Regions from separate parts of the Homo sapiens genome. Here region 1 is linked to region 2. Evidence: fine-mapped expression QTL. Tissue or cell type: sun-exposed skin. Region 2 holds a variant in brackets; the other region holds the start of a gene. All regions are shown on one strand. Distances are from middle to middle.

Evidence for each region. PIP is the estimated chance that this variant, and not a neighbour inherited with it, causes the effect.
Region 1: it holds the start of TPH1, and the variant in region 2 is fine-mapped to the expression of TPH1 in sun-exposed skin (GTEx, PIP above 0.99). The same link has a PIP of 0.9 or more in cerebellum, lung, sigmoid colon, skeletal muscle, subcutaneous fat and tibial nerve.

What each region holds. Positions count from the first base shown.
Region 1 is chr11:18,043,355-18,048,395 of GRCh38, reverse strand. TPH1 (tryptophan hydroxylase 1) reads left to right here and starts at 2,127. Exons shown (of 11, transcript NM_004179.3): 1 at 2,127-2,155.
Region 2 is chr11:17,946,626-17,951,666 of GRCh38, reverse strand. The region is part of intron 9 of SERGEF (secretion regulating guanine nucleotide exchange factor); the gene reads left to right. Among named protein-coding and RNA genes, the nearest start is that of SERGEF, 64 kb to the left of the region's middle. The variant G/A (reference allele first, on the strand shown) is at 2,417.

The DNA of each region.
Region 1 (5,041 bases), 97 kb before region 2:
GTCAATAATGAGTTCACTGTAGGTGTGTGGATCCGTTTCTGGGTTCTCTATTTTGTTCCATTGGTCTATGTGTCTGTTTTTATGCCAGAACCATGCTGTTTTGGTTACTGTAGCTCTGCAGTATAATTTGAAGTCAGGTAATGTGATTCCTCCAGTTTTGTGCTTTTTGCTCAGGATAGCTTTGGCTGTTCTGGGTCTTTTGTGATTCCATATAAATTTTAGGGTTGTTTTTTCTATTTCTGTAAGGAAAGTCTTTGGTATTTTGATAGGGATTGCCTTGAATCTGTAGATTGCTTTGGGTAGCATGGACATTTGAACAATAAGGATTCTTCCGATCCATGAACTTGGAATAGCCTTCTGTTCTTTTGGTGTCCTCTTTAATTTCTTTCATGAGTATTTTATAGTTTTCATTGTAGAGATCTTTCACTCCTTTGGTTAATTCCTAGGTACTTATTTTATTTGTGGCTATTGTAAATGGGATTAATTTCTTTTTCATACTGTTCACCATTGGCATACAGAAACGCTATTGATTTTTGTATGTTGATTTTGTATCCTGCAACATTAGTGAATTATTTAATCAGTTCAAATAGTTTTTTGGTGGAGTCTTTAGGTTTTTCCAAATATAGGATCATATCATCTGCAAACAAGGATAATTTGACTTCTTCCTTTCCAGTTTGGATGCCCTTTATTTCTTCTCTTGTCTGATTGCTCTAGCTAGAACTTCCAGTACTATGTTGAATAATAGTGGTGAAATTGGGCATCCTTATCGTGTTCCAGATCTACAAGGAAAGGCTTTCAGTTTAGGAAAGACATCTTTGACCTCAGCTTGGTTCTGAAAGGTCTCTCCCTGACCAGTATTTTTTATGGCATTGAAGTAAGAGCACTGGATTTAAACTCAGACACTTTTGCTTGATTATTGATGGTACTTACTAGCCTGTGCCAGAATAACGTCTTAGAGCCACCCCTGTGCTTCAATTTCCGTATCTGTAAAATACAAATAATATGTACCTCATAGAAGCATTATACAGATAAAAGAAAAATGCATAGAAAAGCTGTAAAGATCCTGAGCTTTAAAGTACATCCATACTCAGCAAAAAAGAAAACAGGAAAGAAAAGGAACAAATCACTAATACCTGCATGAAACTCAAAAGCATTATGTTAAGTGCCAGGAGCCAAAAATCTGTACATATTTCATGATTTCATTTCTGTGACATTCCAGAGAAGGCAAAACTGTGGAGACAGAAATCAGATCAGTGGCTGCCAGGGGCTGGGTGTGAGGTGAGAGACTTTAGACAAGGGAAATTTCTCGCAGTGATAGAAATGTTCTATATTTTGATCGTTTGGTGGTTACACAACTATACATGTTTGTCAAAACTCAGAATTGTACACCTCACAGGGTGAATATTACTGTATGTTAATTATACATCAATAAATCTTACTTTTCAAACATTGGAGGAAAGAATGTCCTATAATATACTTCGTTATGTGTACAGTCCTTTGGGATAAGGAGCTAATCGACTGACTACTCAACCAGTAAATACCTATTCCAAATTTTTTGCCTCTATGTCCTGTTGTTCACAATAGCACGTAATATGATTTTTTGCTAATATAGAATGCTTCTCTGCTTGCAGCTTAAAATTTTTTTTTAATTAGAAGGGCACTGAACACTTCTCTTCTAAAAAGTTCAACTAACTGTTGCTCTGCCTCAAGGAATGGGGGAAAGCACCAAGAGAATAATAAGTCAGGACTGGGCTATTAAATAGCCCAGAAGCACAGAGAGGTGTGGGAGGTGGGGGGATTCTTGCTTTGGTCTCCAACAGGCGAGAAGCACTGCAGTCCTATAGCAGGTCATTGTGTCGATAATAGGCGTTATCTTGGTTTGGAGAGAATGTCCAACTCTGGATTGTTCAGTGTTAGTCAGACTTGTGTGGTTAAGGACGGCCTAACATTCACTTAATTAAAACACCAGTCAGATACACGCAGAGATTGAGGCGTGCAAGTCTCTGGGAGCAGGCGGACGCGACTGCCCACGCCCCACACCCGCCGGCCCTCCCTTCTCATTGGCCGCTGCCCAGCTGCTCCGACGCCCGCTTCTATAAGAGACAGGCAGCGCGGGGCCGCCGGCCGACCCAGCCTGCACCTACTGGCGCCCGAGGTGAGTGAGGCGGCCCTTCCCGCGGGCACCGGGGACCGCCGTCGAGGCTTTGGCGGCGCTTGGCAGGCGCGGGGCTGGGCAGAGTCACCCTCCCGGGAGGTAAATTGGTGGTCTTGCGGAGTCAGATTTGGGAGGTCGGAGTTGTACCCCTATAAACGCTTACTATTCTTTCCTCCCACGCTGTTTGGGGAGAAAAGACACTTTCTGAGTGCCTCCTGTGTGCCAGGAACAGACTCTTTAGCCATCATGAGATTTCACCTTCATGACAAACTCTGGTAGATATTTCTTGAGTCCCCAGATGAGGAAAGTGGGGTCCAGAGTCCAACCCAAGTCTGTGTGACTCCTCTATGTTGGCAGAAACAGTAAGATTTTTCTTCCTTCCCTTCCTCTCCATCAAAGGGCAATGTCTCTTTTTTTCTTCTCCTCCCATGAAGGGAAGCTTCCCTTAAACAGCCTCCCGAAGAAGAAGGAGTCTCAGATGCAAAGCTTCTCAGCATCGCACTTACCATCATCACCACCATCCCAACAGACGACTGAGAGCTTTTTGCAAGGTCGCAATTGACAAAGAGGACTAGGTCCTTGCGGTTTAGAGTCAGTTAAGAGTCCGTGTGAACTCAACCTTGCCTTTGGCGTTTGATTTTCAGAGGTTTAAAATGAACTTCTCATTGATGTCCCACTCTACTTGACTTAGCAGGAAAAAGACTAGAGTTGAACTTGCTAACCCAGGAAAAGTTTGTGCCTGTTAGTTAAAAAAAAAAGGGGGGGGTGGAATTCTAATATCAATGTTTCTGTAAAGTTATAATCTGTGGTTTACATATGTTATCACTGAGGTCCATTTGTACATGTATTATTAGATTATCTCCAGATAGGGATGTGTCTTCTATTTCCATTTTCTCTGCCAGTGCCTTTATTTCCTAGAATACTGTTTTTCATGGATAGTGTTTTCTTTTGTATTTCATCTACACTTTCATCCTCATTCCCACTCCTTATTTAGAAAAGAAAATCAAGACTCCGTAGAGGATTCCCTCCCTCTGAAAGAATCCTCCTTGCAGTTTTTAGTTCTGTCTTCAAACAATATCCATGCTTTCAAAAGACTAATTCAGTAGTGCTTTGTGCTTCCTAGATCCGGTAAATATAAATTACACTTGTTTTACTGATTAAACTAAGGGAAGAAAAGAGTTGGTCATTGTATACGCCTTGACCTCTCCCAAGGGTCGGGTCTGTTGATCTTCTGAGTGTCTTCTTGGTATTTTTTCCTTATTTCCAGTGGTATGTCCTACACAGTGCATCCTTAGGCCAGGAGACGCAGTAGGAAAATGACTCTACCTTTCATGAGAAAAGGGTACCAGTTGGTATTAGCTGATCAGAGAGTTGCTTTAAAAATAAAATGCTTATGTATTGATGAGACACTGATTCAAACAAGTGTGACCTATTTTATCTTACCAGGTTAGTATTGTGTTTTTTTGTTTTGTTTTGTTTTGTTTTGTTTTCCTGAAAGAGTAGGAGGAGGTGGGTAGGTTGAAAGGGGAAAGGAAAAAGTAACAAGGCAAAATATTGAGGTTCTGAAAGCGGTTTGGGGTTAACTGGAGGAAAAAATAACTGATGCCTCATAAGCTCTGTCAACCAAGCAAAGTTATGGCCAAGTTTTAGTAACGATCAAAGATCTATGTCCTGTAAGATTATTTTGGGGTGGGGGGGAACAAAAAAGAGGGTGAGAATTTTCTTCTAGTTTTCTAGTTTCTTAGCAAAAGTTCCTTTTGAGAACCTTCATTTTTACCATGACTTAAACAAGGAGGAGTGTTTCCACATCTTTTTTTTTGAGACGCAGTCTTGCTCTGTCACCTGGGCTGGAGTGCAGTGGCGTGATCCTGGCTCACTGCAACCTCCGCCTCCCAGGTTCAAGCCATTCTCCTACCTCAGCCTCCCAAGTAGCTGGGACTACAGGCGCCCGCCACCACACCCAGCCAATTTTTGTATTTTTAGTAGAGACGGGGTTTCACCATGTTGGCCAGGATGGTCTCGCTCTCTTGACCTCATGATTCGCCCGCCTCGGCCTCCTAAAGTGCTGGGAATTACAGGTGTGAGCCACTTACATCTTAATATAATAATGTATGTCTTTAAATACATCAAAATAATATAAATGCCTTGCATATCATAAATTTCAATTAATGTATCCTTCACCCTCCTCTCCCCACACCAACTAAGGAGATGTTGGCACAAAACTTGATCCATTCCAGAATCAGGTAAAGAAAATAATTATGAACCCTAAAGGGATGGAGCCATGACTGTTAGCACCTTCTCACAATAGCAACTTCCAGGAAAGCTTAGGGACCAGTTTTGAAAATTGAAGGAAATTCTCTTTTTTTTTTTTTTAAGAGACAGGGTTTCACTCTGTCACCCAGGCTGGACTGCAGTGGCGCGATCATGGATCACTGCAGCCTAGAACTCCTGAGCTCAAGCAAGCCTCCTGCCTCAGCCTCCCTAGTAGCTGGGACTGCAGGTGAAAGCCACTATGCCCAGCTAACTTAAACAATTTTTTTTGTTGTTGTTGTTCATACAGCATCTCACTATGTTACCCAGGCTCTTCATAATAGTTTTTGTTGTTGTTGTTGTTTGTTTGTTTTTGTTTTTGTTTTTTGAGACGGAGTCTCACTCTACTGCCCTGCCAGAGTGCAGCGACACGATCTTGCTCCCTGCAACCTCTGCCTCCTGAGTTCAAACGATTTTCATGCCTCAGCCTCCCGAGTAGCTGGGATTACATGCATGTGTCATCATGCCAGGCTAATTTTTGTATTTTTAGTAGAGACGGGGTTTCACCATGTTGGCCAGGCTGGTCTTCAACTCCTGACCTCAAGTGATCCACCCACTTTGGCTTTCCAATGTGCT
Region 2 (5,041 bases):
CATCAGGGTGTGACCCTGGGCTCTGGCTTTGGGTATCACTGGATGGTAGTCAGGTCTAATGGAGACTTGGTGGCCCTTTACAGGCTCTGCCTCAGTGTCATATCAGGAAAAGCAACAAGGAAAGGAATAGCCTCAGTAAGTATTGGGACAGTAAGTTAATTCATGCTTCTAGTAAACTCGTGCTGGCTGGAGTTGGAGGTCTGATGGACAGAGTCTTAAACGTAGAGCGTGACTTGGGTTGGACTTTCTGTTCTGTTTGTACAATCTGTATGATTTTGGGTCATTCAAAACCTTTCCAAGCCTTAGCTTTCTCATTCACAAAGTGCACATAATAATATCTGCTTTATCTTGCCCATAGAGTTATAGAAAAATGCAGATAGTATATATAAGGGCGTTTGTAGACTGTAATGTGCTGTACATGTACAAAAAAAGTTGTTTTTTAGGTTCATGACATATGAGCTGCTTCGGGTACAGGTTTTGTTAAAAGTATGGGTCAGAGCTGCTGTTTTGTCTTAATCGCTTGAGATCTTAGGAGCTACCTAGAACCACCATGGATCTTGTAAACACTTCTTAGAACTAGAACCAGTGAAGATAGTGGAGCCTAGATGCTTGATAATCCAGCCAATCTCCCTGCAGCATCAGAGTATGAATTCCTGTTGAGGCAGCCATCAGCATTGACAGCAAGGATATCTCTGGCTTGCTTTTTTTTCAGCAGCAGAGGAAATTCATCAGCACTGATTTAAAGTCCTAGTGACCTCATATGTTACTACCATGCTCTGCAGAGGTACAACCGCCCCAGGCTTTGCCCAGGGTCACCCTGGAGCTGACCAGCTGTCTTTTGTTGCATTTGACCTTGAAAACTGGGCTGTCCCAGGGTGAAAGTAAATCATGCAGAGGTTTAGAGTGAAAACAGAAGGCAATGAGGATTTAAAGGAGGCTTCAGTGGTCTGCTGAGAGCAATTCTAGGTCTGTGAAGGCTGAATGAGCTGCACATGAATTGGCTTGTCAGGGGACTAAAACTACCTCCATTTCTACCACTATTCTTCTAGTTTGGACCCTCATTATCTAGTGCCTAATACAGTGACAGCTTCTTAGTTGGTAAGCCCTTGTCTCTAGTTTGGTTTCACCCCAGTTGCCCACAACCAGTTGCCAAAGTGATGTACTGAAATAGAAATCTGATTGCACTATGCTCTTTTTCTTTAGACTCTTAGAAAATACAGAAAACATTTATTCCCATAATACACACTTATTAGATAGCGACTTTCTATGTGAAAGAAACTTAGCCAAGCATTTAAGATATAGTGGAGATTAAGACCCAGCCTCTATTCTCAATGGGTAGGAGAAACACACAACCCATAAACTGCACAGCCAGTGTGCAAAGAATGGAGTCATTAGAGTGTAAGCTCCAGGACTGTTGTTGGCCTTGTTCACCACTGTCTCCTCATCACCTTGCATAGCACCCAGCACACAGCAGGTGCTGAGCAAATGATTGTTATAGGGATGAATGTGTGCCCTTACTTTCTGACGGCTTCCTATCCTGAATGAAGTCTAAAATCTCTGGATTTTCATAAGAAGCTCTTCTTGATCCAGCTTCTGTCAAAATACCCAGCCTCACCTTCTACCAGTCTCTCCCTGTATTCTGCAGTTTATCTATGCCTAACCAATAATGCATCAGGTTTTTTGATACTTCTGGGTCTTTGCATGCTGGTTCTGCTTCCCTTTGCCTTTGGCTCCTTGGACAACTACTACCTATTTCTCAGTAGCTAACAAGGATGATGTCTTATAATCATCTTGGTATTCCTGCCACCTAGTCTTACAAACATGCCTCTTCTTACTTTCTCTGTTGAGTTTTTCTTTGCGTAGTGTCATTATCCACCTTCCTTGGCTCTGTTGAGCAGCTGTCCCTGAAGCACTTTTCCACCCTCCCTTTACCTCCCCTGCCCTTGGGTTTAGGCCTGGAATTTGTTGGGCTGTTGGTGGCCTGGCTCTGGGATGTGATGAGCCCTGACCTCCCTTTTGCCTTTCCTAAACACTTTCTCCCTCCTGCTTTGGCCACATCCAGACAGCTAGATCTCTCTCCCAGTTCTACTTGCACAAAAACCCTATGCTGAGCAGGGTATGGGTTTTGCCAGTCCCATTGCGCAGGGATTGGACTCAGTGTCCTGGATCCTTAGTCACTGTTTGGGACTTTGTTCTGAGTGGCTCATTCCCCTATATAAGGCCATCTGCTTGATTCCAAGGGTTGCTGTTCCTTGGAGCTTCTTGCTTGGAAGCTTTCTGACCAATGGGACCTCCTTGTTGTTTACACTGACCTGAATTAAGCCTCTCTTTGCCAGGCTCCATTGGGTACTTTATATTGGATAGCTGCCTTAGGAGCGAGCCCTGTAGTTCCCCATCTTCCCCAAAGATGACTGCC[G/A]TCTGGCTCCAGCCTCTTCTTTGCCTGAAATGTCCTGAACCACTGAGGCCTTGCCTGGTAGGCACCTCTTGAGGTAGATAAAGAGAAAACATTCCTCTTGTCACTTTCAGGGAAGCAAAACCACACCATTCCCTTGGGATGCAGCCTTTAGACCCCCAAGATCCCCAGCCAGTTGTTAGAGGGACTGGTGAATTGTGACTAGAAGGGGGAGGTTAATCTTTGTATGGTTACATAATTCCCTTTGTGATATAGTGGTTCTGTCTGTGGGGACACTGCCAGTGGTGGCCACCACCTCCTGCATCTGAAGATTACTGTTTGGAAGAGAGCTCTTTTTACTGGATGTCTGGTGTCATCCAAGACTCAGGGAGACTGGCTATGGGTAGCAGAAATGGAAGGAATCAGAGATATCTTTGCAAAAGGAGCAACTGCTACAATAATTAATTGTGAGGCCTCTGGCTTTTCAGAGGAACCAGAAGTATAAGTGGAAAGCAAAGTAGGAGGTAGAGTGGGGTCCCACTCACAGGTGCTGGGAGGCTACTGTGGCTCCCACAGGGGCCTCCCCATGTGCCACTTCAGGAGACCCAGCTGGCTAGGGAAGGTTGCTCATGGCTGCTGAACAAAATGTTTATGTCACTGTAAGCAGCACTCCCAAGACTGGCTGAGGAAAGTCCCTCGCTTCAAAAAGGTGATTCAGTAATTTTTTAGTTTCTTCTCTGTGGTTTTATTTCACTGTGGTCCCCACTGATAAGATTTCTTATTAATTACGTGGGGAGCATGCATATCATTTGACGATCGGGTCTGCACGAGGGAGCAACAAATAGGGGAAGGACTTGGAAGAATCAAGAGACTACACTGCGGCTTGATCTTTGGACAGCTGCTTTTACTTCTCTGAGTCTCAGATTTTGCATCTGTCAAATAGATATAATAATTCTTATTGGATTTAGCTTTGTAAGTTGTCAGAATGATGTCAGGGATGTGAAAGCATTTTATCAACTATGAAGCAATAAACAAATGTACGTTTTGTTTATAGATTTCTTACATTGGTTTTTCGGAAACGAATTTCTTGTAGCACTTTGGGAGGCTGAGGCAGGTGGATCACATGAAACCAGCCTGGGCAACATGGCAAAACCCTGTCTCTACAAAAAACACAAACATTAGGCATGGCGATGTGTACCTGTAGTCCTAGCCTCTTGGGAGGCTGAGCTGGGAAATGGAGGTTGCAGTTAGCTGAGATTGTGCTACTGTACTCCAGCCTGGGTGATAGAACAAGACTCCGTCTCAGAAAAAAAAAAAAAAAAAAGAATGGATTAGGAACAATTGGATTTTTTAAAAGAGGTAATAATAATGTTAGTTCCTGTTTGTCGAACATTGACTACATGCCATGTATTATGCTAAGCACTTTATAAGCATCACTTTTAATTCTTAACACATTCCCATGAAGCAGTATAATAATTTATCCTTATTTTGTAGATGAGGGAACCAAAACCTGGGGAGGTAACTTATTTAAGGACAAAGCTGGGAAATACCAGAGCTAACATAGTGGCAGCAGTGTGGACTAGAGGACATACAGGTGACTGGATGGTGGTTTTCCAGGTTGAAGGGCAAAGAGGTGACTGTGGCTTGGTGCTCACCCCAACTCCTAGAAGTCCAGATGTGCCAGTCTTCTGGCAGAGCCTGTAACAGCTCATTCTTCCCTCCCTTGGTGTCTGGGCACAAACTAGTGGAGGTAAACAGAGCCACCCAAGAGGCTTTCCTTCCCTAGAAACCACCACTTTAAAGCTGGTACAGTAAAGCATGCCTTTGAAGACTTGAGAAAAGATGTTTTAATTCCTCATGATTCTTTCTTGGGTTTGTGTTCTGTTTCTGTTTACAGTGGCGGGAAGTATGAGTTTTGGAGTATCTCATTCCTAGCCCCCTTACCTGCACATCCAAAATGTACCACTTTACAAGGCTCAGATTAGAGCTTGCCCAGTGGAATCTTTTCTGGACAACTTCAGTTGCCATTTCAAGTATGAGCTACTTGAGGATAGGCACCATATCTTGATTGTGGCTGTAACTTTAGTGCATGACACAGTGCCTATCAGAAAGCAAATGGTTGGGATTTGTTATTGAATTGAACGGAAATCTTAACTCAGAGTTTGAATCACCTATTAGTATTTGATTGTATTGTAACATCTGATTATCCCATGTGTGGTGGTCTTCCAGAGGAAAGTATATGTTGCTACTGAGTGGGCACTGTATCTTAAGATTTTTTGTGTGTCTTACCCTGTTAGGCAGGGAATGAGGGGCTAAGTCACATAGCAGGCACTTGGAGAAGCCTTGGGGGCTCCATCTCCATCTACTCTGAAGCAGGCTTGGAGAGATCTGTCATGAGATAGCTGTATTGGTTGCTAACAGAGTTATAATGTATTAGTTCTGGAGGGAGAGAAACAAAAACAGAATGCTGACTCCTCCAGTAGTCTCAGCATGAGGGGCATAGAAATATAGGCATCTTTTTCAATCTGCATTGCTCCATTCCTCAGACACCTATTTTAGGGTGAGAACACAGAGGCGTGCAAATGGTGCATTTCCCTTTGCACCCCTCAAGGTGAAATTTCTGCTGTTGCATGGGGACTTTTGGGAGCA